Linked DNA regions of Homo sapiens. The protein of the gene in region 1 purifies or fractionates together with the protein of each later gene. This does not show direct contact. Each region holds a gene or a part of one and is shown on either strand. Other genes may lie near its edges. The genes, in order: SPMIP6, MMADHC, DCTN6 and NIF3L1.

Region 1 (8,068 bases):
TGTTTTCTTTTATCTCTTATTGTGAGCTCATGTTTAATTGGCCGTTCTTCAAAGGATACCTGGAAACCTACACTGAGGATGTTTACCGCCATTGAAGATAAATATGTGTGTGTGGGGTGTGTGTTGGGGGGCAGAGACATGGAACTTTCTGGTTAAGTTTGGAATGTACAGATTTAATTCCTCTATCTTTCAGCTAGTTTAAGGCTTAAATGCCTGTTTATAGTGCTAATAATGGCATTTGTCCTCAGGACAATCCTGTCTTCTTAACTATACTTACCACTCATCTCCATGAGACTCCAACACAAAATAAAAATTAATTTTTATTCAGAACTTAAGTTGTTTTGAAGCAACAGGGCCCTTCAGAGTTTCTAGACCACCATACTGCCAAAAGCAGCAGCTTTTCCTTCATTCTTTTTTTTTTTTTTTAAGAGACAGGGCCTCGCTCTGTCATCCAGGCTGGAGTAAAGTGGTGTGATCAAGGCTCACTGCAGCCTCAACCTCCTGGGCTCAAGTGATTCTATCTCAGCCTCCCGAGTAGCTGGGACTATGGGCACATGCCACTGCACCTGGCTAATCTTTGTATTTTTGGTAGAGACAGGATTTCACCATGATGCCCAGGCTGGTCTTGAACTCGTAGGCTCAAGCAATCTTCCTGTCTGCTTCAACCTCCCAAAGTGCTTGGATTACTGGCCTGAGACACCATGCCTGGCTTTTCCTTCATTCTTAATACCACTGCTATCTGACTTTCACTCCTCGCCATTCATTGAAGCTGTCTGGCTAAGTTACCAAGAGTTACTACATCCGAGAGATTTCTCTGTCACTAACACTTGACACTGATCTTTGTCTAATAATGCTGTCTTTATTGGTTTATCTTTGATTTTCCTCCTAGTTCTCTGGCAATAATTCTCTGTCTTCTTTTATGGCTTTTTTTCCTTTACCTACCCTTAAATATTTATATTCTCCAAAGTTATGTCCTTGGCCATTTTCTCTCTCTTCTTTGGCAATTTCATCTCTTCCTATGACTTCACCCACCATTTATATGATGATGACTTCAAGATCTCTATCTATAACCCAGACCTCTTTCCTTTGCTTCAGATAAGTATATCTAACTACTTGCCAAACATCTTTTCCTGGATATCCTCAAATATTTTTGTTCTCAAATGAACTCCAAATCTCTAATCTGTTATTCCAAACCTCAGTTGATAGCATTAGCATTCCTCCAGCTGCCACAGCCAAAAACTCAAGGGTCACCCTAATCTCTCACCTTACCATCCATATGGTGACCAAAATCTGTTCATCTACTTTTTAAAATTCCCTTCTATTGAGTATGGAGTCAGGCACTCTCATATTTTGCTTGTGGAAATGTAAATTGTTACAACCCTTACTTATTATGGCAATTTGAGGTATATAGCAAAAGTTTTAAAAATGTGTATATCTTTTCTCCTAACAATTTCATGTCTAGTAATTTATCCTAAGGGAATAATTGGAAATGTGTACAAAGATACATGTATAAGAATGATTATACTAGCAAAATTTTATAAAGTACCTAAATTTTCAATAAGATTCCTTAAATACACCATTTTGTAATAAATTTTATTTATTTTTATAATAAACAATATTTGCTTCCTGAAAGGGCATACGATAATATATTAACAATGGTAATTTTAGGTAGTAGGATTTTAGACCTTTTTTCTTTGTGCTTCTCTGAGTTATCTGCATTTTCTACATTCAGCGTATATTTATTTTGGAGTTAGACAAAATAAATTATTTTAAAAATTCTCTCCTATTCAACGAATTCCTTTTTTCATTGTGACAATCTCCTTATCTCCCACCTACATCCTCCTTCCTCATCTGTTCACCCCTCGCTGGCCTTCCTGCCCTCAACCCCAGCCCCTGCAATTCCCTGACACTGTGGCCAGAGTGGCCTAACTCACAATTGAACCATGACTCTCCCTCCCAGGTTCAAAAACCTGGAGCCTTATGTCCACGCTCCACAACATAGCCAGAGAGGCCCTTCTTGGTCTGCAGACTCCTCTCTCACCCAAGGACTAAACTCTCCTGCTCTAACAGTTTCAGTTTCTGGTAGGTCCCTGCCCACAGGCTGCCTTTTCTCCTGACTGTCTTCTGCTGGAAGCCTCCTCCTCCTGGATCCCTCAGTAGGTCTGCCCTTCAGGTTGGGCAGCGCTCTCCCCTTTCTGGCTCTCCACCTCTGCTGGTGCATGTTCCACATCGGGCAACTCTACTTTGTTCACTTGTTTGCTGTGAGCTCCTCAAAGGCAAGGGCTGGCCCTTCCCTTTTGTATCCTGGGTTGCCTACAGATGAAGATACTCAGCAAAGTTGGATGGTACACACAGATAAATTCTCTTAGGCAGAGTCACAGTTAGACTCACAGATTTCCTCCCACCTGGCCACCAATCTTCAAGCACAGACACAAGTAAACTGTGATACATATAGATAAAGGCATGCATATAGGACAGTTTCCGGCCTATTCCACAGGCAGCCTCAGGGCCTTTGCACTTTGTGATCACTTGTCTGGAACTTTCAGCTCTTCTATTCTTTCAGGTCTTCATGTGGCTAGTTCTATCTCATCTTTCCAGTCTCAGTTTATTGTCACCTTGAGAGAGGGTTTTCCATGACCTAAGTAGCCCTCCCTTTCCATTTCCACTTCCACTACTCTGTTTATTTCCTTTACAGTATTTTTGAAGAATTTATAAAACTCATGTTTATTTCTTATTATCTGCCTGTTCCTACCTCCTACCCTAATGTAATTCCATGAAGGCAGGATTTTGTGCTGTTTTACATACCATTGTAAATTCTGTGCCTAGGTAAATGAATAAAACACACACATACACAAAGCTACAAATCATTACAAACATACATTGCCAGGCATCCAGACTGGCCATACACTCTGGCCTGCCCCTCCCCACCAATCTCCCACTTACCGGAGTCAGAAACTTGTTGGCTTCCCAGGCACACAGGGGTGGGTCCTTATAGACCTCCTTGATGGAGGTGGGAGCCCTGTAGGAGTCACTGTAGGTACTGATAGGGGTCCTGGTCTTACGGGAGAACAGGAACATGGTGTGGTCTTGGAGATGCCGTGGTGGGCTCTACCTGTCAAGGGCTCCTGCTGGACATCAGTGACCACCCTTCCCCTAGACAGGCCACACCTCCAGCCTGGCAGGTGCCCTTAGCTGCTATAATCCCCTCCTGCAGAGGATCTCTCAGCTTCCTTCCCCAACAGCCTTCCTGCTCCCACCCCACACTGATGCCCCCTCCAGGATGGGCACTGCCCATTGTGATATCACCTGGCTCAGCCCCATCCCTGGGAAGGTGAGGAGGTCTAATTCCCTCCCTGCTCCTGACCCCCTCCTGCCTCAAGCCTATCAAAAGAGCCCAATTTCTAAGAGTTCAGAGGGCCTCTGGAGATCTTCTAGGTCAGGTTTCTCACTGTTGAAGAGAAACAGAGGTTCGGAGGGGTTGTGACTCACCCAGGGTCATGCAGCAGGTCAGTGGCATGCCTGGGAACCCACAGGTGGAGGTGGAGTAACATGTGTGCCCAGAGGACCAGTTCTGTCTGCTTCCCAGCCCATCTGCCCCTTGCCCACACCCCAGGGAGGGAGCTGAGGCTGGCTTGTTTGATGCTTTTAATATCATTATTTGTGTTACACGATACACAACCAAGGATGATGGTCAATACTGCAATGAAAATGTTAAAAAAAATATTATACACGGCTCATGTCTTCCACACACCTTCCTGGAAATAAATTAGTGAGCACGGAGAAACCTGGCTGGGTGGCAGCCACAGCTGAGAGAGGAGGGAGTGTTAAGGCAGTATCTACAAGGGGAAGGGTGGCAGGAGGGCAAGCTAAGGCCTAGATTCTTCCCTCCAACCTCCCAGACAGGGAAGGAGGGAGCCACACCCCTCCCTAGACACAGAAGCTGCCACTGCCAGCTTCCTGCCTCTCTCTGCCACACATGCACTGCCTCAGTTGGAAGCCCTTGCCTGCCAGGGAACTAGTATGTCCTGTGGGGGGGGAGATTTTCCCTGGTGTCTCAGGGCCACAGAGATTGAACAATGGGCCCGAGTCACACTGCAAGTCAGCAGCAAAGGCAGCAGTCTAAATGAGCCCCCAAAAAGAGGAGGTACCCATGTTCTAGAAAGGTGAGCCAAGGAGCCCCGGGGTGGTGGTGGTGGTAGTGGGAGGGCTGGCTCTGGGGTCCAGATGATGGGGGCACAGGGGTTGGGGGGATGTTGATCTGGGTGGGAGAGGTGGGTTCAGATGGGGGCCAGTATGGGCCTTGTGGGTCCTGCAGGTACCTTCTCTGTCCTTGCCTCCCTTTGTTTGGCATTTTCTCATCATCTAACTTGGGTCCCTGCACTAGAGGAGGTAGGAATGGGTTGGCGGAGTGGGGGGTGGTGAGCTGTACCCCAATATTTTGGAGCTGGCAGTTCCTGGGTATGATGCAGGGAGAGGTACCACCCTTCCTAAGCCAACAGTCTCACTCCCTCCTCTCATTGCTCCCCATTCCAGCTCCCACCTCCCAGGATTGGTGTCCAGAGAGTGGGCTGTGGGTGAGTCTACTGCATGCCTGCAGCATGTGAGTGGATCCATGGGAGTGGATCCACCAGCACATGTGGGGTGTTAGCATGAGATGATCCACCTGGGCCTGTGCTATAAGGTATGTGGGCACAGGCCTGTGCAGTCTTAGGCTATCTGTGCTTTCATTTTTCTTCACACGGTGGCAGGTCTACACTGCCCAGCCCCAGGGGTGGGCCTTCCTCACCTCTTCCCTCTTGATTTTCAGTCTCAGCTTTCCAGTCCCCTCCCCCAAACCAGCAATAGCAGAAGCAGCTGTATACACATCTTGATCTACAGACACCCTATACAGCCACACACAATAGACAACCCTCCAACACACACACACATTCACAGACAAACACGTAATCCCAAACAGAGCCACATGTGCTCAGACATACACAGTCCTGATAGGAACTGCCCCTTCGCCTTTCTACAGAGACACACAACTCCGCCCCACCCCAACCTTTAGGTATACTGAGACACACAGAGATTGCCCCCTCCCCACCACAGAAATTTCTATGAAGAAACTCTTTCAGGTATAAAAGGATCTTCAACATAATTTCAGCTGCTGTTCATTTTCTAGTTGAGGAAACTGAAGACGAGAGAAAGCAAGTGGCTTGTTGAAGATCACAGGGAGGGGCCAGAGCTACAACCAGAACCCAGGCTTCTGACTCCCGGTCCAAGGCTGTCAGCCCATTGCACTGCTGAGCCGCCTTCTGCACTGTAAACAGACCACACAGGCACTTCCCTACCAGGGACACCCACATCTATGACAGGAATAGACTGAGGAGAGACAGGTCCAACAGAGACACACACCCACCCACCCCCTGACAGCCTCAGAGATACACACACATTCTGCTAAGCACTCCCTACCACATCCAAACAACCACATCCATAGAGCCACTCAGCCCACTGGATTCACCAAAGCTTGCTCCTGGATTCTTACTGGGAAGCAGCCTCCCACGTCTTGGGCTGGGGTGAGGGGAATGGGCCATTGGAGTCCAGCCTTACTCCCTGCTTCCAGGCTGGGATTGAGACCAATGAGCAGAAGCGTGGGTGAGGGTGGGGGCAGGGTGGGGTGGGCTGGTGGCAGACAGATAGATGCATTGGTGAGGGGCCAATTAGGACAGATCACACCACCCAAACCTCAGCCTGTCTGTAAGGCCCACCTTACCCTGCCCCACTCCCAGAGTGCAAGGAAGCGGGTGAATGGGGCAAGAGGAGGAAGAAGGCAGTGATCCGATGGGTGAGGGGCACTACCCGGTTGGGCAGCTTTGCCAGGCTTCCCATCTGAGGAGGGGGAAATGCAAATAGAAACATGGGCCGGTAGGGGGCGTGTGAAGGGGGCTCCGAGGTGCTGGGACCCGTCCCCACTGCCCTGGGCCTTTCTCCCTCCGAGCCCCTTTCCTGGTTAGGCTGAGGCCGGGGCTTGGGAGTTCATGGCTTCGCTGGGGTGGGGCCAAGCCCCTGGCTTTGTGATCCCCCCACTCGTTAATGTTGACCTCCCTGCCGTCCAGTCTTCTCTCTTGGCCAGCCCTGGGAAGCGGGGCAGGGTGCTGGGTGAGGTTCCCCCAGGTAACTGAACAAACGGCCCCCACCCCTCCTCAGCTCCCGGGTGGAGAGAGACCCAGTTTTGGTTTCTCCAGCTCCATGAACACACAGAGGTACACGTCCTACCATAGGAGGAAGCAATGACTGTTATACGAGGTTGGCGGCTGTAGGGGCGCGGGGCCGGGGGCAGGCAGACGAGCTGGGAAGGGGTCGGCCTCTGCCCGTCCTACCCGGCCCTTGGCGGCCCCGCCCCGGCGACCGCAGTGGCCCCGCCCGCTACTGAATGTGGCAGGCGGTGGAGGACGTGGCCTGGCAGCACATGCACGTGGGGTTCACGGACTTGGGGGGGATGAGGTCTAGGTCCTCGTCGTCGGGGATCTCATCTAACCGGTAGCCGTCCTTCAGCAGCTGGATGTTCAAATCTTGGTTGATCTGCTGTAGGCAAAGGGGAGGGAGGTCAGGCCCGAGCGGCAGGGAGGCACCACCCACAGCTCTGCGGCCACTCCAGGCCGTCTGCGCCCCAGTCCAGCCAGTGCCCTGGATATCAGCCCCGCCCTGTCCCGGGTCTGTCTGTACCCCCAGGCCCCGCTCCTGCCTAGGCGCCCTCCTTCGCCTCTGGCCTCTCTTTCTAGTCACCCCTCCCCATTCTATGGTCAACTTCACACCTCTGGTCCTGCTCCTATTCGGGTTTTGCCCCTATCTCAGGCCGGCTACTAGAGGATATCACCTGTATTTTACACCCATTCTATTTAAATGGCCTGCTGCAATCTAAAGCCCCACTCCTAACCCTGGGCTCCATGCACTTGAGGCCAGTAACCACTTCTCTTCCATCCTATCCCAGGCCCACCCTGTGCAGGGCACCACCCAGCCTTGCCCAGCCCTCTTTTTCCTTGTACTTGGGCATTGGCCCCAGCCCTCCCCCGGGATGGCAGTGATCCTGCCCGGTGGTGTCTAGGGTGAGAAGGGGTAGGGGCTCACCTCAGCAGAGGAGTAGCCGGAGGAGGAGTATCTAGACATGTCAAAGTCATCATCGCTGGCCATGGAGGAAAGAGAGGGAAAGTGATACCAAGAAATTACATAGAAAACTCTCTGCAATCCCACCTCCCATTAGGCAGCATCCTATACCTCCCTTACAGTTCCAAATAGCAAAATCTCAATACGAACTGTGCTTGCTGTGCAAATGCAGGATTTTAAAGACAAGTTCCCTAGCCCCACCCTTAAAATCAATTGCTATCCTTAACCTCCTTCTAAATATAGCAGTTACTCCTTTCACCCCCTTCTCATCTTTTTTTTTTTTTTTGTAGACTCAAATCACCCTGACTTGTAGGATATTCCCAAAGTCCAAGTCTAGCCAGGTGTTTTCCAGGGAGTAGGGCTCCTTCCTGAGGGGATGGGGCATTAAGCATCATATTCTGCTGTCCAGAGACAACATCACAGGCCAATTAGGGACAACCATTGGATCAGTTGTCCCAGGATGACAGCAGACAACGCAGGCCCCCCTTTCCTCTCTCTGCCACCTCTCTTCAACCCCCAGTCCCTGGTGTAAAAAAATTCCCATCCCTGGAGAATTCACCCTTGGAGAGATTCTGGCTGAAGAATATCCCAATTCTGACAATATAGCAGGTGTGGCCTGTACAGCCCACTTGTGCTATACAGGTTCCTTTGGGCTGCCCAGCTACCCCCAAGCCCCCATACACACCTGTCCGTGTCAAGGGCTACCAGTGGCTTCTCATCAGGGCTCTGGTCAAGTGAGGAGTAGCCTTTATTGGGGACGACCAGCCTAGGTGAAGAATTTCGGGAGTTAGAGTGGCAAAGTGGAGCATAGAAACCTGGCAAGGGACTGGGTTGGGCCCCGTCCCACCACTTTCTTCCCTCCCTCCCCACCTTGGATCCTGTTAAGGCTGTCTCCTCTCAGAGAGGAGCTGGGCCTGAGGAG
Region 2 (8,362 bases), on another chromosome or scaffold:
CTAAGAAAATCCAATTACCAAATTTCATTTTAATAGCAAAATAAACCAGTATCTAAATTGCCCACTGAAAGCGACAGTTGATGATAGTACTAATCTGTTTCAAACCTTACCCGTTAACCTGTGAGATTCTCAAATCTTGGCTGGGTGCAGTGGCTCATGCCTGTAATCCCAGCACTTAGGGAGGCGAAGGTGGGTGGATTACCTGAGGTCTAGCCTGGCCAACATGGTGAAACCCCGTTTCTACTAAAAATACAAAAAAAGCCAATTAGCCGGGCATCGTGGCAAGTGCCTATAATCCCAGCTACTTAGGAGGCTGAGGCAGGAGAATTACTTGAACCCAGGAGCCAGGATTTCAGTGAGCAGAGATCCCGCCATTGCACTCCGGCCTGGGAAACAAGAGTGAAACTCCGTCTCAAAAAAAAAAAAAAGAAAAAAGAAAAAAAAGAAGAAAAACAAATCTGTAATTGTAATTGTGGAAGTGGAATATTTTCTGACAACTTGACAGATTTTATGACTGGTTCAGCTGGTGAACATAATTAAAAATAATAGCCAAAAAGCAAGTCAAAATTACAGCAGAGAGTTCATTCTAGTTTGAGGAAAAGCATTTATTTTATATATGATTAAATTCAAACTTCTAGACTTGGGAAGATGACATGCTATTATGTTTTAACTGTAAAATCCTTATTAGTATATAAAGAGAAAGTGCCTTTTGTGCACTGCCTTAGGACTAAGTTCTGCTTTTGATCATGTGAGGAAAAAATATGGTCTGTACAAAAACTAAAAACTGGTAGTTTATGTAGTGCATCCACATCTATCCAGACATTTTTGTGCATCCCACAGTGTTGCAAGATATTTGAATTAAATACAAACATTGAGAAATCGCAATATTTACACAAAAGGTCCAGAAATTTGGCTCTTCTTGAAAACTCAGAAGATCTGGCAGTATTGGATTCACATAACCAAATGGCATTAGTTAGCAACAAATCACTGTAGCTAAGGAAAGGTTGCTCCCCTTTGTTCAGAAAGGCTTTGTCACAGTCCCCATGAAGGCTTCTTAATGTACCTGTCTAGACTCTGAAACATGAACATTCTTGCCCCTTGTTATGAAACACTATCTGCATATTTCATTAGTAACATCCATCCACAATTTACAATCCATATAAATTAACACAAAAATTGTTATCGTACATTTGGATACTGAAACTTAAATTTATTTTAATATGAACTTCTTTCTAACAAAAGACTTATAAAAGGATCTTCCCTACTGAACTATTATAATTTATTCATTTAAACCAAAATAAAACCAGGTCAAATAATAGCATTCTATTCTACTTCAATTAATTTCTCTCCTTTGAAAGTACCACATACTTCTTTTACAGCATTCTCTTTCTGTGCAGGTTATGGGCAGGCAAAAATTCACCATAGAACTTGGCCAAGACTAGTAATCTATTCTTATGACTTGTCTCTATAGTCACACTTTAGACTTAATATACCATGTTCAATTACAGAAATAGCATCCTGGCTAAATGCTGCCATATAAATCTTCCTAGCACACAGCTCTAAGTGAATAATCACAATTTAAAGAATGAAGTCTAAATTACTGAGTTCGGCATTCAAGGCTCTCATTTACTTGGTACCAACCTCACAATTCAACCTTATCTCCCACTTATCTCTTTCATGCAGCTTACATTCAGGTTGGCAGGCAGCAGTCACTTTTCAGTTTTTCAAAGGGGTAGGCGGGTTGGGGAGTTCTTTGAATATACCTTCCTGTCCTTCCCGCTCATATTTTAGACTATACAAATCCCACCTATCTTTCAAACCTCAAGTTAAATGTTTCCCTCATGAAGTGATCCCAAACTCCTCTCCACAAAGACTTGAATCTGCATTGCACCTTCGTGTAGGTTCTAAAAAAAATTATTACTTTATACTTTAATTGTAGCTGTTTTTATATATGTCTTATGACCGCTACATATGAATTCTATAGATAGGATGTGTCTAATCACTGCAAAGTTACAGTCAATAAATATCTCTGGTGTGTGAGAGTATCTCCTATTCTTATTTTGTAGGATTTAGAAGGTCACTTCCAATATGGAAACTGTTTTAAAAAAAAGAAAAAAAGATTAAAAAAACCCTTCAGTTTAGCTAACCCAAAAGCTAAAAAAGGGCCTAAACATAGATTCTAATATTTACTGAAACGCTGTATTTAAAAAATACCGAAAGGGTGCTTGAATTTCCACATCTGTACAAATGAAATTGTATAAATAAGTGTATTTGCAGTGCAAAGAATGCTACCATCTTCAAAGCATAACATAATTTCACACCACTTGCTTCCCTTGACATTTTTGATACATTATATCTAACACTATACCACCCAATGCCATCATAATTAAACCCGTTCTTTCATTCCTAACATTCCCAAACGAGTTTACTATGCTGATTCTTAAGAGATAATTTACTCACATTGGCCATCTCCGCTGGAGAAGATAGTTCGCAAAATAGCTTTCCTTTGGTAAAGTTATTTCTGGGAAAGAACACAACAAAACAGACGAGTGATCGATTAAACTCTAACAACAGACAACTGAGGTAACGTCCACTCTTCGAAGGTGTGTCGTCCACCACGTCAGGACCAAAGTCCAAGCTCTCCCCGTACCCTAAGGAGGCCAGAACTCGCCCCCATGCCAGGCACAGATCCCCCAGCCCGGAGCCGGCAGTGCAGCTCAGAGCCCTTCCGGTTTACAGCCGCGGAAAAACAACTCGGACCAGATCCGGGAGGGGAATGGGGGCTGGGTGGCCAAAATTCAGTCCAGAGGATCGAAGCGGCTGCTTTAACAGAAGTTGGGGCTGCGTAACAACAGCTCCAAGCAAAGCTTCAGGCTGATCGGAAAGATGAGGAAGCAGAAAAGAGACTAAAGACAGACGGACAGGATGGCTGGGGACAACGACAGGGACCCAGTGAAAATACGGGCAATACCGAGGGCTGTAACCCTAACACGGGCAAATTTGGAGGGGCTAACATGGGCGGAAACCATCCGTACCAGTCACCACCACTGTCTCCAGCTGTCCCAGAACCGGACTCTTCCTGCCATCAAAATGGCGGCGGCGACGGCAGCGGTGGTAGCACCTACGCTGGCGGTGAGCAGGCAAAGGAAGTTGCTTCCGAGCGCGTCGAAACGATGATGCGCACGCGCAAAGTAGGCCTACGTGGAGCCGACCTGCCATTGGGTAAACGCAAGGGAGGAGAAAAGGTGGGGCAGGGGTGATTTGGGTGGATGGATAGGAGGGCTTCCGACCTGCGTTAGGCGGGTCAGTTAATCTTCAGTAACTCCTTGATGCGTTTGATAGTCCTCCCAACTTAAGCCTTCCTTACTGCCTCCAGGAGATACAGTCTTCTGTTCTTTTTGTCATAGTTGTTTATTTTTCATGAATCGCTGTTTTTGAGCATAGGGCACTTACCTCTTTCTGTGTCCCCAGCCCTACCACAGTGCCAGGCTCTCAATATGCTCGATAAATATTAGGCGATTGATTTGTAAATCGTGTATCATTTTCATGTATCTAATACTTTTTTAAAAATTGATTAAAGCCCATAAGCCCATATTTTATTCCAGATGTCCTTAGTTTTCGACCTGGTATTCTTTTCCATTCCAGGATCCTGTCCGGAGTACATCACCATGTCTTCCAGGCTCCTCTGGACCGTGACCGTTTCTCAAACTTTCCTTGTTTTTGATAACCTTAATAGTTTTGAAGCGACTTATTGGTCATTTGGTCAAATGTCCTTCAATTGGGTTTTGCCTGTATTTTTCTCATGCATTAACTGAGGTTATGGGTTTTTCTTGAGTTAAGAGGTAAGGTAAAGTGATCTTCTCATCACATCACATCAAGGGTATATACTATCAACATGACTTATTACTGTTGATGCTAACCTTTATCACCATTATTACAGTGTCATACAGAAAAGTTTTATAGTTCTACAAAGATCCCCTTTGTTTCATCTAGTAAGCCCTTCCACCTCCCTATGTAGGGTTTGTCAGGTTTCTCCACTGTGAAGTTACTGTTTTTCTTTTCCTCTCCATACTATACTATTTGGAAGGACATCTCTCTGTGCAGCCCAAACTATAGGAATGGGAAATTGTTATACTCCACCTTTATGAGGACAGAATATCTTCATGAATTATTTGGAATTCTTCTGCATGGGAGATTTGTCTGTACTGCATTTATTTATGTATTCAATCATTTATGTCAGTATGGACTCATGGATATTTATTTTACATTTTGGGTTATAATCCAATACTACTTTATTTTGTTGTTCATATTGGTTCCAGCTTTGGCTATTGAGATTTCCTTTAGTTGGCATTTGTGTCTTTTTGACAAACCCTCCTCGTTTTATGTTTATTGATTTTTTTTCTTGAGCATTTTCTTAATTTCTATAAGTTGCTCCAGGCTCATCTTGTATATTCCCTGCCCCAATCCTAGAATCAGCTGCTTCCCCAAAAAGCCAAGGGTACTTTTAATGGAAAATGATATTAGAAATCAAGATTTGGACATTTGGGATGTTGTTGCTTCTAGACACTCTCAGCTGACAGAGCAAGGAAATATTTGTGGATATGCTAACCTGACTAAATACGCATATCTGTAAGTATTTATATATGTATCCATCTGTATCTTTGACAGCTACACAGGCGTTCTAGGTTCAAATACTAGAGCTGTTATCTTCAGTTCAATTCCAGCACCATATGGATCATTGCAGCCTTCTCCCCTTGCTTGTCTGTAGCCTTCCACTCCAGTGTGAGACACCTGGCTCTCATCATCTGCCATCCATTTACCTAATTGTTCAATTCCAGGTTACGTGTATAATGGATTCAGAACCGTCAACCCGTATTCAGAGTACATGTATAGTTGTTTCTGAACTGTTATCAGGTATACCTGTGAGAAACAGATTTACCAATTAGAGTACAATGCTTATGTATAGTTCTTTTGCTTTTAATCTTATAGATTCCACTTATTTTCAAAGTTACTGAAGTCAGCAGCCCTCCCTCCTACCTCTACCCGGCCTCAGTGAAGTTATTTTATATGCTCGTAATACAGTTGTAATCTTTTGCCACAATCTGCATTACTCCTGGGATTCTTTGAGTTCCTAAGATTTTTTAAAAAATCTTCCTCCGTTTAGGTTCTGTTTGTGCAATCCTCATAATGCACATTTATTTTTTTCTTTTCCTGTACATAATAGCAGACAGCTGGTCAGTAGTGGGATAGAAGTAAAAATTTTTTTAACTTCAAATTTTCTTTCTATGGGGTTTGACAAATCCATACATAGTGTCATGGATCCACCATTATTAGAGTGTCATACAGAAAAGTTGTAGTTCTAAAAAGATCCCCTTTGTTTCATCTAGTATTAAACCCTCCCACCTTCCTATACCTCTAGCAACCACTGATGTGTTTACCATCTCTATAATTTTGACTTTTCCAGAATGACATAGAAATGGAATAATACAGCATGTAGCATTTTCAGACTCATTTTCTTCACATAGTAATAGCTGCATTTAAGATTCATCCATGTTTTTGTGTGGCATAACAGTTCATTCCTGTCTTTTTATGGATTCTTTTTTAAGACAGGGTCTGATAGCTCTGTTGCCCAGGCTGCAGTCCAGTGGCACGATCATAGCTCACTGTAACCTCAAATTCCTGGGCTCAAGCAATCCTCCTGCCTCAGCTTCCCACGTAGCTGGGACTACAGGTGCACACCATCATGCTTCACTAATTGTAAAAACTTTTTTGTAGAGAAGGGGGCCTCAAACTTCTGGCCTCAAGGGATCCTCCCACGTCAGCTCACAAAGCATTAGTATTACAGGTATGAGCCTCCAGGCCTGGTCTTTATTTCTGTCTTTTTGATCCCTGAATAGTATTCTAATGTATAGATGTACCACCATTTATACTTATTAAAGAACATTGTGATTCTTCCAGTTTTTGACAATTGTGAATAAAGCTGGTATTAAGTATTTAAGTGCAGGTTTTTCTGTGAACATGTTTCAAGTCAGTTGAGTAAATATCTAGAAGCACAATTGCTGGCAATTGTATTTTTATAAGATATGTGAAAATAGTTCTGCTAGGTTATTTGAGCATCTTCCCCACAATCATATATATAGTTAATTTAAGAAATGCTCTTCTATGTTGATAACATAGAGCAAACTTCATTCCACTCCTGTCTGATTACTACAAATTGGTAATGTCCAAATTAGTAGGCTTTATGAATCACAGGCTGACACTCCTGCAGCTGTTCAAATCAATGAATACTCAATCGCAGATAAAGGAGAGTATCTTGGAATGTCTTTGTTAAGGATATCCAGGGAAGAAATTCTAGGACTTTCCTTGGAAACCATCTGATATCTCAAAAAACCTTAACCTTAGGAAATTATCCCTGCCCCAGAATTCTCATGTTGTACATTTATTTCCTCTTTTCCTATACATAGTAGGAGACAGCTGGTCAGTAGTGGGATGGAAGTCAAAAATTTTGACTTCAAATTGTGTTTTTCTTTAATAGATGCTTTTTTATGCTGGGAATTTGTTGCTCCAAAAGTGGGCCAATTACTAAAGTCATCAGACTCTCTTTCAATTTCTGAGATGTGAAATTGAAAGAGAGCTGCATATTTTCTTACAGAAAATGCTAGATATAAGGCACAACCAAGGAAGGGGTGGGAGCTCTCTTTCTCTGTTGTGACTTCGTGATTCCTAGTTAAAGTCTGTGGGTGTCAAGTTGTTTAGTGATGAAGAGAGCAGAAAAGTGCCAAAGAAGCTGGTGATTTGAGACCTTTACTTTGCAAACATTAGTGATAGGAAACTAGAGTTGAGGAGAAATTCTAAATTTGAAGAGAGAATTCTAGATTATCCTTCCAAACTAAGTATGTCCAGGAGTTACCAGCCTGAAGACCTCTACCACCACTACTGATGCTGTTCTATAAAGGCAGAATGTTGTATGTAATGGTACAGGTATAGACTAACACCATATGGCCCTGATTGGATTCTTGAATCTGACATTTCTAGCTAAGTCATTGTCTTAGTCTATTTTATATTGTTATAAAATAACAACATAATCCCACAGACTGACTAATTTATAAAGAAATTTATTTAGGTCATGGTTATGGAGCTGGAAGTCCAAGAGTATATGCTAGAATCTTCTGAGGGCCCGTGTGCTTCATCATCTTGTGGCCAGAAGAAATGTAGGGGGTTGAGAACATTTCAGGCAAAGGAAGCAAAATGAATAGAGGAATAGAATCCAAAAGACTGTGGGCAGTTTGAGAGATCCACAGCTAGTTCAAGGAACTGAGTTGGAGGTAGATGGGGATCAGATCATAATTGATCTTCAGTGCAATACTAAGGCGGATGTAATCCTGGAAGCAATGAAAAGTAAGTGGGCAGATTTAAGCAGTCATGCCATTATCAGATTTGTGTCTTGGGAAGATCTTCTGGCTACAGCACAGAGAATAGATTGGAAGGGTGTTGGGCAGCAATTGGATCAAGCAGTTAGGAGACTCTTGTAGTATCCATGAGGAAGAACACAAAGAGCCTGAACTAAGGGAAGGGGAGCGTTAAGGAATCAACATGACATAGCTATCCATGGGTTGCTGATGAGGAAAAGAGGACAAGTTGAATCTTCAACTTCTAAATTTTTGATTCAGGATATTTGGCGAATGGGGTTCCTTTTACTGAGATTGGGAATCCAGTAAAAAGTGGATATTTGTATAATATATCCTACGTGGCAGGCACTTGGATAGGCATTTTTTCAATATCTATTTTAATCCTCAATAATGCAGAAAATTGAGGTATTATTATCTTCATATCATAAATGAAAAAATGAAAGCAAAAAGAGGAAATATATTACTGAAGCTTCTGGGGCTGGATTTAAATCTGAATCTGTTTGGTTTAAAACTAGTATTCCCTTTTTCATAGGATACTTCCTCCCAAGAGGAAAGCAAATTTAAGGAGAATGATAATATGCTTAGTTTGAATTTTGAATTTTAATTTAAGATGCCTGAGAGCATTCATGTGGGTTTTTGTCCAAGAAGTCATTTGAAAGGTCTATTGCTCAAGAAAGTGGCTTGTCTGAGAGATCAAGATTTGAGATTTTTTTTTTTTTGACAGAGTCTTGCTCTGACACCCAGGCTGGAGTGCACTGAGTGATCTCTGCTCACTGCAACATCTGCCTCCCAGGTTCAAGTGATTCTTCTGCCTCAACTTCCTGATTATCTGGGATTACAGGCATGCGCCACCATGCTGGGGCTAATTTTTGTATCTTTAGTAGAGACCGGTTTCACCATGTTGGCCAAGCTGGTCTCAAACTCCTGACTTCAAGTGATCTGCCAACCTTGGC
Region 3 (7,583 bases), on another chromosome or scaffold:
AGAGTCTCACTATGTTGCCCAGGCTGCTCTTAAATTCCTGCCCTCAAGTCATCCTCCTGCCTCGGCCTCCCAAAGTGCTAGAATTCCAGGCACGAGTCACTGAGACTGGCATCTTTTGTTTTATTTTAATTATGTTCTTAAATAGTGTACCTGCTGCCTCATGAAGACAATTACATTGTATTTTGGGAAAATCAGCAGATAGAACTCTTTTTAAAGAGAGGTTCTAGTACCTGCGGTCGCTCAGTCTGCACCCGACGAAGGCAGTCTGCACCATAGATCACCGTATTCTCAGGGATGACTTCAAATGTATTTAGGTTGCAACAAGCCCCAATGATGCAGCCACTTGTCAATATTACATTTCTGCCTACATATGCTGCAATAAAAACACAGAAAGAACTGCAACTTAAGACATCAAATGATTCCAACACTTTTTTTCTTAAGGTGATTTAGGTATAAAAATGTAAACTGGCCTCAAGAAAAAAGTTAAAGAAAATACATCAGTTTGGAGTTTGTATGGACAACACAGAGGCAGGCAGTACAAGCCAGGGTCAGATGAATTCAAAATGGAGCTCTGCTGCTATTTGTGTGACCTTGGGAAAGTCGCTGCAAAGTCTCTAAGCTCAAGTTCATCTATAAAACAAAGAGGCCACTCTACTTCACAGTTTAAGGAATAAATGTGATAACAGATGTAAAGTGATGAGCACAGGTTTGACACACAGTAAGCATAAAATAAATAGAAAATGCTGATGATAATAGTGATAATTGATAATCCAAATTAAAATAAAAGTCATTAAGTAGATTAACAAAAAGTGTAATTTTATTATTTTAAAAAGAAGCATTTTCTTTCGTGCCACTCAGGACCAAGAAAGATAACCCACTATTCTAAAGAATTGTCATCATTCAGGTTTTTTCTGGACCTTGGTGGGACAAGCTCTTGAAGTTGCTTCCCAGTAGTGACAGTGACTTTAGGTAATCTCCTGTCTGGTCCCACTTACAAGCACATGATATTTGTTTCTGATTGGCTAGGGAAAAGTATTCCTGAAATTAAAGAAAACAACTGCTACAGAAACTTTGATTTTTCCCCCCCTTTAATTCTACAACAACACTAACCAACTAAAATTTCAGAGACTAGTATTTAGTAGAAATCTTTTCCAAATCTTTCATTTAAAGTTTATGGTTTAATTCAATCCTGTACATAGCTGATTTTAAATTTAATGTATTTAACATTACCAGATAACCACATAACCAGATTAGGTTCCTTAGTGGCAAACAATTAGTTCGCCAGCTATTGTAGCCCACTTCCAAGCACAACACCTTGCCACAGTTTCTATTAGGTTGTTTCCCAGGACACCACAAAGAGAAAAGAGGTCACTGCTTTGACAATGAAACTCTGAATGTAGCTTACCTTTTGATTCAATGACATTATTATCTCCCATCTTCATGGCTTGGGAATCTGTAAGCCAGAGTTAGGTAAATACTACAAATATGTTCATCTTTAGTCCCCACTAACACAGTATGTACTTACATTGCACTGGGACAGAGGACAGGGGTGTCAGATGGGCCATGCAGGCTCACCCTTGCCAGAACTCTTTGCTCTGGGCAATCTGTGGTAACGGTTTAATCTTTAAACATAAGTATCTCTAGGTATAAATAAATGACTTGTGTTTTTAAAGAAATGAGCACCTTATACCCTGATTTTATGAGTAAAATATTTTCATAATTGTTTCAAGATAATTAAAACTATCCATCACCCAATCACTTAAACACTGTTAAAAGTTTGATATATCTTTATATAAATATATAGAATTTCCTGTATATAAGTGGGAATCAAACTGTATAAACTTTTATAGCTTATTCAGTTCACTTAAATTTGCAAGCATTATTCCACGCTATTAAAATCTTTAGGCCAGGCAGGGTGGCTCACATCTGTAACCCCAGCACTCTGGGAGGCCAAGGTGGGAGGATTGCTTGAGCCTAGGGGTTCAAGGACCAGCCTGGGCAACAGAGTGAGACACCATCTCTACCAAAAATAAAATTAGCTGGGCACGGTGGTGTGCACCTATAATTCCAGCTACTTGGGAGGCTGAGATGGAAGGATTGCTTGAGTCTGGGAGCTGAGGCTGCAGTAAGCTATGATTGTGCCACTGCAATGCCAGCCTGGGTGACAGAGCAAGAGCCTGTCTCAGAAAAGATAAAATAAAAAAAAAATCTTTAAAAACATAACTTTAAATGACTGCTTAATGCTCCTAGTGGTTTTATGCTCATAGTTCAATTTATTTAAATATCTTGCTATCATTGAACATTTAGATTTTTCCTTCTAAATATTTTCTACTATAGTATGTTTTGCTGACACCATAAGATTTTACTATCTTTTTTTTTTTTTTTTTTTTAATCTTTTTGAGACGGAGTTTCGCTCATTGCCCAGGCTGGGGTGCAATGGCGCGATCTCAGCTCACCGCAATCTCCGCCTCCTGGGTTCAAGTGATTCTCCTGCCTCAGCCTCCCGAGTAGCTGGGATTACAGGCATGTACCATCACGCCCGGCTAATTTTGTATTTTTAGTAGAGACGGGGTTTCTCCACGTTGGTCAGGCTGGCCTCAAACTCCCAACCTCAGGTGATCTGCCCGCCTCGGCCTCCCAAAATGCTGGGATTACGGACATGAACCACGGTGCCTGCCCTGATTTTACTATCTTTTTAGAGTACTAAACTAAGCAAAAGAACTGGAGACATTCTAGGGAGGAAAAAAGACAACACATGAATAATGGAATATTTTCACCCCTACACACCATTTTCTTGAATCAGACAATGCATTGTCTACCTAAAACTACAGAGGAACCACACTGACAAAGCTGGGGTTCTTGAATCAAGAAGGAAGCCAGCATTGCTGCTTCTATGTTTACTGTCACTCAGCCATTGCTACCTGTCAACAAGCTGTAGTACCAGCAAAAGAAGTGGTTTCTTTCAAAGTGCTGAGCTAAAGATATGTGTGTGTCTGCGTTTGTCTAAAAACGGCATACTTATTTTACTCTATTGACTTATTTACAGGAACAGAAGGGACCATTTTTAAAATATATACTATTCAAGAAGTCTGTTCAAAGAGCTAGATGACCTACTTTTATTTATTTTTATTTTTATTCTCTTTTGAGAAGGAGTCTTGCTCTGTCACCCAGGCTGGAGTGCAGTGGCACAATCTTGGCTCACTGCAACCTCTGCCTCCCGAGTTCAAGCGATTCTCTTGCCTCAGCCTCCCAAGTAACTGGAATTTCAGGCGTGCACCACCGTGCCCAGCTAATTCTTGTAATTTTTTTTTTTAATAGTAGAGATGGGGTTTCACCATGTTGGCCAGGCTGGTCTTGAACTCCTGGCCTCAAGTGATCCGCCAGCTTCGGCCTCCCACAGTGCTGGGATTTACAGGCATGAGCCACCGCACCCAGCCTGGATGACCTACTTTTAAAAATGTAATTATAATATATATTGTGAATGTAAGTATGTTTGATAGATAAATTATGACAATTTTACAATTTCTACAGGAGAAGACTTAGGTACTAAAGGAGAGCCAGGAATTATTTACAATTTCTACAGGAGAAGACTTAGGTACTAAAGGAGAGCCAGGAATTATTTATGGTAGATTATTGTAAAGGATACAACAGCCAACTTCAAACACATTATTGGTGCCAATGATCATAGGTTTTGGTTCTGGATCTTCAGTGTCAGGAGTGATATTATCTGGGTAACTGTAAACAGAAGAAACAAATCATCCAAAAAGTCAATAACACAATAAGCAATTTTCTTCCCATTTTCGAATTTGGGTTAATTCTTTCAATTTTACCTACATCAAGCTTAAAAGACATGACTATATAAGTTATTTCTTTTTTTCTTTCTTTTTTGATATGGAATCTCACTCTATCACCCAGGCTGGTACAGTGGCACCATCTTGGATCACTGCAACCTCCGTCTCCCGGGTTCAAGAGATTCTCCTGCCTCAGCCTCCCGAGTAGCTGGGACTACAGGCACGTGCCACTAGGCCTGGCTAATTTTTGTATTTTTGTGGAGATGGGGTTTCACCATGTTGCCCAGGCTGGTCTCGAACTGATCTCAGGTGATCCACCAGCTAGGGCCTCCCCAAGTGCTGAGATTACAGACATGAGCCACCACGCCCAGCCTATGTAAGTTATTTCTTAATTCAAGTGATTCATTCATCCTGTGTGCTAGAGAAGGCTTGATTTTGAGTTGAAGAGAGCTACTGAAAAGTGAAGAAGTCATTGGTGTGTGGAAAAGAATAGCCTTCCTTAGTTTATTTGATTTTTTTATTTTTTATTTTTTTTTGAGACGGAGTCTTGCTGTGTCCCCCAAGCTGGAGTGCAGTGGCACGATCTTGGCTCACTGCAACCTCCACCTCCCAGCTTCAAGCGATTCTCCTGCCTCAGCCTCCCAAGTAGCTGGGACTACAAGGTGGGGTGCCACCACGCCCGGCTAATTTTTTTTTGTATTTTCAGTAGAGACGGGGTTTCACCATATTGGTCAGGCTGGTCTTGAACTCCTGACCTCGTGATCTGCCCGCCTCGGCCTCCCAAAGTGCTGGGATTACAGGCATGAGGCACCACGCCCAGCCTACTTTATTTTTTAAATTCAAAGTCCAGTGGGTCTTCTCCAGGACAAAGGAAAGAAGATGCTAGCTATCTTTTTAGGCTGTTAATTAGAACCAAAATCATGCCTAACTTGAAAATTTTCCACCCTTAATAATCATTTGGGATTGTGAAACATAAACAGATATTCACATAAAATAATTATTGCTATTAGTTAGCTAGTTGAAATATTTGGAAGATAAAATGTTTGTGTTCTAAGAGGTGGACGCCATTTTTAAATGGTGCTTTATCTCTGACAGTTGAGTTACTGCAGAATATAGTTGCTGTTAATTGACTTACACTGAAGGTGCCAAATGTATTTTAAATCCTAAGTAAGCATTAAATCAGTCTTTTTCTGACAGTTAAATATTTTCCCAAGGTCTTTCTTACAAATTCCATACATGGTTGCTATAAATTAGGTATAAGCTTGAATTCCTTCCCAAAATTTTATCTAGAAAGAACTTATGTTTATGAAAAATTCATACGTATTACAGTCTAGTTCACTCAGATCATGCACATGTTCTAGTATTTTATTATTTTTAATCTTTACAGTTTAAAAATTGCCTCTAAGACTCCACATTTTTCAACTATAATTCTGGGTGTCACCTGTGCAAAACATGTGAAAAAATATATTTGAGTTAAATTCACGTGTTTAGGCATGAGTAATAACATTTCAGCTACAACCAAAAAATCAAAAAAAAAAAAAACTCTGCAGGGTGGTGGGCACAGCACTTGGAGGCTTGAAGTGTTCGGGAAATGTTTGCTTAAGGAATGGGTGAGATAGCCACATGTAAGGGGAAGATCACCAGACCGAGCGTCAAAGATTCTAGGCAGCTACTCAGCTCTCTCATCTTGGACAAGTCTTTTCCCTCATATGGTATTTGGTTTGCTCATTTACTTATGTTGAAAAAGACCCTTAATGCTTCTCTAGCTCTAAAATAGTAGGCCTCCTGGATGTCAGCTGAAAAGGTTCTTACAGACAGCTGAAATTAAGAAAAACCGTTACCCATGGTACTTGGTTCACAGTATGTATAAGAGTCTTACGCATTTATGATAAGGGCCTGTTCTTCTATTAGGTTCCCTTCGCCAATCACTATTGGCCCGGCTTCCGCAATAATTCTTGCTTTAGGGTGGATCACTGTCCGAGGTCCTGTTAAAAATAGTTTGAGAAGAAATTATTGGTGGAGGCTATGCTTCCAACAGAAGGGTGGAAGGTGACTGAGGATGGGTGAGGCTGTTGGGAGGAACATTTTCTAAGTATGTGCCAGGCACCAAGCTAGGTACTTCACAGATACTATCTCCCAGGCTTTATCATCAGTAGTCAGGGCCAAGTTGCAAGCCAATGTGAGTGGAATGGCACAGGCACTAGAGCCAGACAGCTCTGGCTCAGCCTCCACTCGGAAGCTTCCTGTGATCTCAGCGGTGAAACAGAGGTGATGACAACACCAGTCCCACAGGGTTGCTGTAAGGGCTAGGGGCGATAATGCTGGAGACACAGCATGTGACACAAAGGTGGCAATAAAAATTAATTCCTTCTTTTCCCTCAGCAAGGTAACACTCTCTTTGCTTAAGCTGTTCTGCTTTCTTATGCGAGTGTACCTCCGAATTAGTCTTTTTATTACATAATTGAGAAGAAATGTGGAGGCCAAGGCGGGGAGATCGCTTAAGGTCAGGAGATCGAGACCAGCCTGACCAACATGGCGAAACCCCATCTGTACCAAAAAATACTAAAATTAGCCAGGCATGATGGTATGTGCGCCTGTAGTCCCAGCTACTTGGGAGGCTGAGGCAGGAGAATCATGTGAACACAGGAAGCAAAGGCTACAGTGAGCTGAGATCATGCCACTGTACTCCAGCCTGGGTGACAGAGCAAGACCCTGTCTCAAAAAAAGAAAAAAAAAAAAGGAGAAATATGGGTGGACAGAAGTCAGAAATTATGGGATCTAACAGCTTTGTTCCTCTGTCAGTGTCCCTATTACAAGCACACCTACTGAAAGGTGGCACAGCTTCTGCTGTCTGGCCCAGGATATGATTTAAACCAGTGAAAGCTGAAAAGGTTAAAGGGAGGCAGCAGAAGGACCCAAAGGTGATCACTGGAGTCCGAGGACTTTGGCGTGGGGAGCCCTGAGGCGATGCCTCTAGTCTCGAATTGAAGGGAACAGCCAGGGCCCTCATTACTCCCACTTCACCAGCACGGTCTACCCCGCCCTGAGCCTGGAATGCTAACATACTCCCTCCCAGCTTTATCTACCACAGGCTGAGGGTTCTGGTGATAATGAAACCACTGATGAGAAAACATAGCCTCCTTTAGGCTCTCTCCAATATCCATCCCACGTACCCCTCAATACCAAGGCAATTTTTATGGGTAAACAAGTGCAGATGAAGTAACTGACTCTGAAAGTAAGGGAGGGTGGACAGAAGTGTTGATAGAGGGGGTGGGGGATTAGGAAAGAAATTCAGTATTCAATTGTGTAAACTGGTTTTTTTTTTTTTTTTTTTTTTTAAGAGACAGGGTCTCATTCTGTCACCCAGGCTGGAGTGTAGTAGTGTGATCATAACTCCCTCCAGCCTTCAATTCCTGGGCTCAAGCAATCCTCCTGCCTCAGCCTCTTGAATCACTGGAACTACAGGCACATGCCACCACATCCAGCTAATTTTTAGAGATGGGGTCTCACTATGTTGCCCAGGCTTGTCTTGAACACTTGGCCTCAAGAAATCCTCCTGCCTCAGCCTCCCAAAATGCTGGGATTACAGGCGTGAGCCACTGTGCCCCACCTAATGATATAAATTGTCAATTCATAATTATTATCTGCCTGTGACAGCTGAGATGCCTCACTATATGTTATGGGGCAACAAAAATAAATACATGTTATTTTTGTCCTTTTGAACTTGTTATCTTGAAAACTGGGAATGCTTAATATACACTCATTCACAAATGTACTAAAATAAATAAGGAG
Region 4 (7,683 bases), on another chromosome or scaffold:
AATGGTCTACTGCTTGGTAAATCTAGCCATGTAAACCATCATTCAGGTTGCAAATGCTCATACTTTATTTGACCACATTAATCCAGATATCATCATAAAAGCTTTAGCCCAAAATGAGTAAACTAAAGACTTACTAAAATAAAGCTAAAATCCATCCATCATTCCCTCATTGTGCTAGGCATAAGTAAACATTCACTAAAAACATTCATTAAAACCCTGATGTCTATTTACTTGACTTATCAATCAAGTGTATTCTGGAGAGGCCTGAGCTTTCAATTCAACAAGCATTTTCCAAGTGCCTGGGTGACAGGCATTGTGCCACAAAAGTGAGGAATCATGAAGCTCAGTCCAGTAAGGAAGACTTCTGCTCTCCTTACTCCATAAGAATAAAAAATGTTTCCTTTTTCAAATGCAATTTAACTGCCAAATTTCAGCAACATTATTTTAAAATTATTATATAAAAATGGAATCATGCCCTCCCCAACCCTAAAGCAGTTAAAACTTTACTGGAAAGACATCCTAAAGTTTCAAAGTATTTGCAGGGAAAATATCAAATATGAAAGAGGCTTCTCACCAAGCCCTTTAGCCAACCAGTTGTTGACGCCCTGGGGCGCAGCATCATAGGCTGTATGAGGAGAGTAGATACCGACTCTGTTCTCCAGAGCCCGGATCACCAGGCGCTCCTTCCATGTGTTCCAGGTTATGCGCTTCATGGGTCGGAAGATAGGCGGATGGTAGGAGAGAATGAGGTCTGCCTTCTTTTGCAGCACCTCCTCCATCACTTCCTCAGTCAGGTCATTGGTCAGGAAGAGTGTATTTACAGTATGTGGTGGGCTTGGTTCCACCAGTAATCCAACATTGTCCCAACTCTCAGCAAACGAGAGGGATGCAAAGTCATTCAAGGAAGAAAGGAGAGCCTTCAAATCCATGAAGGAACGGGAAGAATTGCAGATCAGGGAATCTACAAACCGGACTGTCGTGGGGACTGGGCGTACGCAAGATGACAACATACAGAAATCAGGTAAAGTTCAAGTTTCTGATGTCAAAACAAAGAAAATGGTACACAGGTATACTTTAGGCCTGGATCTTTGAGGCATCAAAACATATGGGCAAAAGAGCTGTCGTCATAGAGATCTGGGTTCAAATAGTGGCTCTGCCACTTACCAGCACACTGTAACTTAGGTAAGCCATTTAACCTCTCCAATCTTGTTTTCTCACCTACGAAACAGAGATACTATAACCCACTTCACAGGCCATCCAGAGGAGCTAATGAATTATGTAACCTAGCAAAGCCTGGTACATAATACACAAACGTCCATCCCATCTCCTGCCTTGCACACCCTTGTTCTTATTCTCCCTACCCTTGCTTCAACCAACCTCCTCCCTAATCCATTTCTCTAAATATTACCTTTCCTTTTCCCAAGCCCCCTCCAACTTCTTAAATAAAACTTTTCTTGACCTCCCTTTTCAGCATCCTTCCCAAGGCTCCCCACCCCTCAGTATTCTCATAATTCTGTGTGTGCCCATTATGCTAAAGCTACTATGTAATAGGAACTAACTTCAATAAATCTCAGTATCACTAATATAAGCCAGCACTAAATGCTTACTGCATAGAATGACACTGCCCGCCTCCCCTGATTGCAACAGAATTTGGAGTTGGGGTGGTATATACTGGCATTACAATGTGCTTTACCAAAAAACAGAATAATGTGGCGGGGCGCCTGTAATCCCAGCACTTTGGGAGGCCGAGGCGGGAGGATCACAAAGTCAAGAGATAAAGACTATCCTGGCCAACGTGGTGAAACCGTCTCTACTAAAAATACAAAAATTAGCTGGGCATGGTGGTGTGCACCTGTAGTCCCAGCTACTCGGGAGGCTGACGCAGGAGAATCACTTGAACCTGGGAGGCGGAGGTTGCAGTGAGCCAAGATCATGCCACAGCACTCCAGCCTGGCGAGAGAGCAACACTCCGTCTCAAAAAGAAAAAAAAAAAAAAAAAGAATGTTTAAAATGTCAAGTGCTTTATCAGAATCAAAAATCAAGGAATACATAGGCAGGTCACTCTATAAATGGGCAGGGTCAAGGCAGAAGAAGGGAGAAGCCACTGCCCCTTAAGCAACATTTGCTACACAAAGGCCAGGCTCAAGAGGTGGGAGGGGATAAGGTATAGGGTACTTTTCCCAGACAGCCTGTAAGCCTTCTAAGTATCTACATCCAACAAGGAACTGAAAAGGTTGGCAACAGAGGGAAGGTGGGAGGGCAATGGAAAGGTAGAAAAAAACTGCTGGCTCCAAAATATGCACAATTAGTAAATGTTTAATCAAATAACCACAAAAGATAATGCTGTCAACCCCATTCTTAAACTTACCACTTATAAACACTTTTTGAAGAAAAACATTTCATAGTATGCACAATAAGAAAGCATAGCCAACTGTAAATTTGATGAAATATCCATAAGTCAATTATTCCAAAAGCAATTTTTCAACATTTCTATTTAATGAGATGAAGATGCTTGTTTAACACATTATTTGAAGTGATACAGGGTCTCCAAAAACCACTCGAGGTCTTGGAAGTTTGTTTTTGTTTTTTTCTTTTTGACACAGGGTTTCACTAGGCGCCTAGGCTGGAGTGCAGTGGCGTGATCTCAGCTCACTGCAGCCTCGACTTCCTGAGCTCAAGCAGATCCTCCCACCTCAGCCTCCTGAGCAGCTGGGACTACAGGCGCTAAACACCACACCTGGCTAATTTTTGTATTTTTAGTAGAGATGGGGATTCGCCATGTTGCCCAGGCTGGTCTCAAACTCCTGCGCTCAAGTGATCCACCTGCCTCGGCCTCCAAGAGTACCGGGATTACAGGGGTGAGCCACTGCGTCCGGCCTTGAAAGATCTTCTAATGGTCCTCATAGTACTCCATTCTCCAGCATTTTCTACATCTGGCAAGCTCGAAAGTGAAACCCTAGTGGGCCATCATGCAGGTTTTGAGTTATTTACTGTTACAGATGAGGAAACTGCGAAGCTACATGGCCACAGTCAACAACGACAACAGAAGGCAACATAGTATGGCGGTTAAGAGCACCGACTCTGAAGCCAGCCTGAATCCTAGAGCCAGAGCTGTGCAACAGCAGGTAAATGACTTATCCTGTGCAGTTTCCTCCTTAATGGAAATAGTGCCCAGGCCACAATATCGCGAGATTTACACGTAAAGCTGGAAACAACTCCCGTCCTAGAGTAAGCACTGTTTACTATTAAGCAGCATCAGTAGGGCCCCTTTGCAACCTGCAAACCGCTCCCTCGACGTTACCTCATCTATGCCTCATTTCAGTGCCACTTCAGGCCTTTTCCAGGACAGTGAAAAACCACGAGACACAGCCAGTTAAGTCTGAGTCAGGACCCCTGTCCCACTAGTGCGCTGTGCTCTGGTGCGGCAGGGCAGTTTTCTGACCCAATCTCCTCTTCTGCTGTCCTCTGCAGCACCAAGATAACAATCACAGCCGGCCCCAACCGGCACCTACCGCGAAGGTCACAACTACACTCGCGGGTTTTTAAATCGCCCACTACTCACCAGTCCCGGAAACTTCTCTGCGTCACTTCCGGTCCCGCGTCGGCGCTCCGGATGCTGTGGCACTTGGCTCCCCGTAGCGGGAGAGCTGGGCGGAAGTGGTCCTTTCCGTTTGGCAGCCGAGTGTAAAGCATTGCTTGAGGTTGCCCAGGTAGTTTCGCCTTACACTTCTTGTCCCAGTGCAATTATTAGTAGAGCTCCCTTTCACTGTCAAATTTCCGGTTGGGGATAAATTGCATTGTCGTTTTGGTTTGAGATAGGAAGATGAGGGGAGGAAGGAGGTGAGGCGGTAAGGGGCGTTCTCTCTCTTGGGTCCCGCGCCCAACTTCCGCTGGCCCAAAGAAACTATAATTTTGAACCAACAGACCTCTGCTGGCATCTGCGATTGCATTTTTCCTGTTTTAACAACGGCTGTGCTAGACGAAGTGGTGAAGCCCAAGTATGGAGTAACGTCATTAATTCTTTCATTCACTTATTCGAATGCTTGCTGAGTTCTGTGTTGCTACTGGTTTAGTTCTTGGGATACTGCGAGTGAACAGTGGGCGGCGAGGCTGTTGTTGCAACGTCAGAGTAAAAGAAGGACCCTGCACGGCGGCCTCCCAGCACTTCGGGAGGCCGAGGCGGGCGGATCACCTGAAGTCAGGAGTTCGAGACCAGCCTGGCCAACACGGCGAAACCCCGTCTCTACTAAAAATACAAAAATTAGTCGTGCATGGTAGCGCGCGCCTGTAGTCCCACCTACTCGGGAGGCTGAGACACGACAATCACTTGAACCCGGGAGGCGGAGGCGGAGGTTGCAGTGAGCCGAGATCCTGCCGCACTGCACTCCAGCCTGGCGACATAGCGAGACTCCGTCTCAAAATGAAAAAAAAAGAGAAGTTCATAGTATATTAGTGATAAGTGCTGTGGTGGAAAAAAAAAAGTTCATAGTATATTAGTATAAGTGCTGTGGTGAAAAAAAAAAAAAGCGAATTTCATAGTATATTAGTGATAAGTGCTGTGGGAGAAGGAAATAGGAATGTCCTAGGGCTGAAGGGCTAAAGCAGTTCTGTGTAGGATTGTCAGGTCAGTTAAACTTGACATTTAAGCAGAAATTTGGAGGTGAGGAAATTAGCCGTAGAGATGTCTGAGTATAAGAATTCCAGGCAAAAGGGACACCCAATGCCTGGACCCTAAGGGAAGGTATCTGGGTTATTGGGGGACTTGCAAGGAGGCTCTTGAAGAAGAGCAAGCCGGGCAAGTAGGAGATTGGGAGGCTTGAATCGGGTAGGATATCTTCTATAGCCGGGTTTTTATTACCTAGGGGATGCCATTAGAGGATTTTTTTTTTTTTTTTTTTTGACGGAGTCTCGCGCTGTCACCCAGGCTGGAGTGCAGTGGCGCGATCTCAGCTCACTGCAGCCTCCGCCTCCTGGGTTCAAGTGATTCTCCTGCCGCAGCCTGCTGAGTAGCTAGGACTACAGGCGCCTGCCACCACACCCGGCTAATTTTTGTGTTTTTAGTAGAGACGGGGTTTCGCCATGTTGGCCAGGCTGGTCTCGAACTCCTGACCTCAAGTGATCCACCCGCCTCGGCCTCCCAAAGTGTTAGGATTATAGGCGTGAGCCACCACGCCCGGCGAGGTTTTTATTTAAAATGTTCAGTAAAGATGAGCGTGTGTGAGTTAAGACAGGAAAATGAGCCTAATTCTTTTTTTCTTTTGGGACTAGAGACTTATTTTTGAGCTCGCTGTAAGACTGAGAAATCACGTAGTCCTTCCTGAAACCACTAAGAGGAAAAATGGTAAGTTTTGAGCAATTTTTATCTAATGTCTTTCATTATAAGTAATTTTTAGAAATTCAGTCAAGGGCAATAAAAGTTCATGGAAATTGCAGTGGCAAGATGGAGAAATTGTATAATATAGAAGCACTTAATATGGAATAATTCTTTTAAAAAATACACAAAATTGCTTTAAAATTCTTTAATGTTGTCACTTAAAATGCACAGAATTTACCTTTTTTTTTTTTTTTTTTTTTGAGTTTCACTCTTGTCTCCCAGGCTGGAGTGCAGTGGTGTAATCTCGGCTCACTGCAGCCTCTGCCCCTGGGTTCAAGCGATTCTCCTGCCTTAGCCTCCCCGGTAGCTGAGATTACACGCGCCTGCCACCACGCCCAGCTAATTTTTTGTATTTTTAGTAGAGATGGGGTTTCGCCATTTTGGGCAGACTGGTCTCGAACTCCTGACCTCAGGTGATCTGCCTGCCTTGACCTCCCAAAGTGTTGGAATTACAGGCGTGAGCCAACTCGCCCAGCCAGAATTTACCTTTTATGGAGAAAGATTGATTACAAGATAGATAGAAATGGAAAGGGAGAGTTGAAGGAGCAGAAGAGAATAGACAGGTCTGACAATTTTAATTGGATTATTTTGCTCTAGATCTAAAGTGGGCAACTAGGCTGGGCACAGTGGCTGACACCTGTGATCCCAGCACTTTGGGAGGCGGAGGTGAGAGGACTGCTTGATCCCAGGAGTTCAACACCAGCTTGGGCAACACAGTGAGGCCCCCGTCTCTACTTTTAAAAAAACAATTAAATAAAGTGGGCAACTAGAACCTGAAGTAGAAAAAGGCAATGAGAATAGTGCCCTGCTTCTCCCACACACATCTTTAACCTGCTCATACTCTCTAACTGCTAGGCCAGGCGCGGTGGCTCACGCCTGTAATCTCGGCACTTTGGGAGGCAGAGGTGGGCCAATCACTTGAGGTCAGGAGTTCGAGACCAGCCTGGCCAACATGGTGAAACCCTGTCTCTACTAAAAATACAAAAATTATCTGGGTGTTGTGGCATATCCCAGTAATCCCAGCTACTTGGGAGGCTGAGGCAGGAGAATTGCTTGAACGCAGGAGGTGGAGATTGTAGTGAGCCGAGATCACGCCACTGCACTCCAGTGTGGGCGACAGAGCAAGACTCCACCTCAAAAAAAAAAAAAAGGAGAAATGAAAAAGGAACCCTCCAAATTGTTTTCTCCCTCTCTGGAATACAGTATCATATCAAGGGGTATACAGGTTACAGAAAAACAGGTACAACAAAAACAAAAAGCAAGCAAGAAAGCACTGTGGTTATCTCTGCACATTTAAGATTTAGAAACACTGACACTTGTTATATTTTTGTTAGTCGAGAAAGGAATTATTTTTTAACCCTATTTCTCAGAATTAAATTACCTAAGGAAAATGGTGGAAATTATGTTTTGAAAAATCATTTTCTCATCATTTTTCTATAAATAAGGATGTTGGTGAATTGCCATGTACATCAATAATACATAACAATTGTTTTTATTTTTCTTGATAAAAAATTCAAAGTTAAAATAATTCTTTCCATCAAAATATTTACTTCCAAATTTTTGTCATGGATACTACTTAACCCTAACATTTATATTCTGGAGTTTTTTCTCTACTGTTGGGATCAATTTTGAGAAAAAAGTACAACTTAACCTCTAAGAGCTGCTTTGTGGATGGGTCATCTCTGAAGCAGTATTTCTGTCTGTTTTTATTCAGATTATCATCTTGAATATCCACACAGGGAAATAAACAATGCATAAAGTCACCTAAATAAATTTCATTTGTTCTCACATTTTCTCTCCTTTTTAGTCTGTGACACTGCATACAGATGTAGGTGATATTAAAATTGAAGTCTTCTGTGAGAGGACACCCAAAACATGTGAGGTAAGTACTATTATTTACATATTCAACATCAGTTAATACAACAAGATAAGCACTTTGGAATTGAATAATCTAACCTAAATAACAACAACAAAACTTTCTGTAAAACCATTGTTAGGGAAAACTAGCCATCCTAACTTCTGGCCTGATTTCCACTTATTTGTCCAATGTCAAAGGTGGATCAAAGAGAACGTAGATAATTTTTCGGTAACGATAGAGTAGCCAGTATCTTTTTCTTTTGAACTAATTTTCTTCAGGAAACGTAATCATTAGGACATTATATTACTTTTTTCTTTCTTTTTTTTTATTTATTTATTATTATTTTTTTTTGAGATGGAGTCTCGCTGTGTCCCCCAGGCTGGAGTACAATGGCGCGATCTCGGCTCACTGCAACCTCCGCCTCCTGGGTTCAAGCAAGTCTTCTGCCTCA

The links.
Region 2: the proteins of SPMIP6 (region 1) and MMADHC purify together in Homo sapiens (affinity purification with mass spectrometry; 3 studies listed by BioGRID and IntAct, with this or other methods). This does not show direct contact.
Region 3: the proteins of SPMIP6 (region 1) and DCTN6 purify together in Homo sapiens (affinity purification with mass spectrometry; 3 studies listed by BioGRID and IntAct, with this or other methods). This does not show direct contact.
Region 4: the proteins of SPMIP6 (region 1) and NIF3L1 purify together in Homo sapiens (affinity purification with mass spectrometry; 3 studies listed by BioGRID and IntAct, with this or other methods). This does not show direct contact.

Annotation. Positions count from the first base shown.
Region 1 is NC_000009.12:34,394,556-34,402,623, forward strand, and holds the start of SPMIP6 (sperm microtubule inner protein 6), read right to left. Parts: upstream 3,256-8,068; 5' UTR 3,079-3,255; coding exon 2,944-3,078; intron 1,780-2,943; exon of another isoform or gene 1-1,779. Other genes in the region: protein FAM219A, read right to left, coding at 6,409-6,567, 7,111-7,165, 7,832-7,912. UniProt on the Homo sapiens protein: May participate in intramanchette transport and midpiece formation of the sperm tail. May play a potential role in somatic cell proliferation.
Region 2 is NC_000002.12:149,584,629-149,592,990, forward strand, and holds the start of MMADHC (cobalamin trafficking protein CblD), read right to left. Parts: upstream 3,148-8,362; 5' UTR 3,036-3,147; exon of another isoform or gene 2,730-3,035; intron 2,522-2,729; 5' UTR 2,470-2,521; coding exon 2,461-2,469; intron 1-2,460. UniProt on the Homo sapiens protein: Involved in cobalamin metabolism and trafficking. Plays a role in regulating the biosynthesis and the proportion of two coenzymes, methylcob(III)alamin (MeCbl) and 5'-deoxyadenosylcobalamin (AdoCbl). Promotes oxidation of cob(II)alamin bound to MMACHC.
Region 3 is NC_000008.11:30,173,278-30,180,860, reverse strand, and holds part of DCTN6 (dynactin subunit 6), read right to left. Parts: intron 5,777-7,583; coding exon 5,671-5,776; intron 3,736-5,670; coding exon 3,647-3,735; intron 1,454-3,646; coding exon 1,406-1,453; intron 374-1,405; coding exon 231-373; intron 1-230. UniProt on the Homo sapiens protein: Part of the dynactin complex that activates the molecular motor dynein for ultra-processive transport along microtubules.
Region 4 is NC_000002.12:200,885,271-200,892,953, reverse strand, and holds the start of NIF3L1 (NIF3-like protein 1), read right to left. Parts: upstream 3,584-7,683; 5' UTR 3,302-3,583; exon of another isoform or gene 1,037-3,301; 5' UTR 1,011-1,036; coding exon 575-1,010; intron 1-574. Other genes in the region: PPIL3 (peptidyl-prolyl cis-trans isomerase-like 3), read left to right, coding at 5,339-5,341, 7,182-7,256, 7,587-7,683. UniProt on the Homo sapiens protein: May function as a transcriptional corepressor through its interaction with COPS2, negatively regulating the expression of genes involved in neuronal differentiation.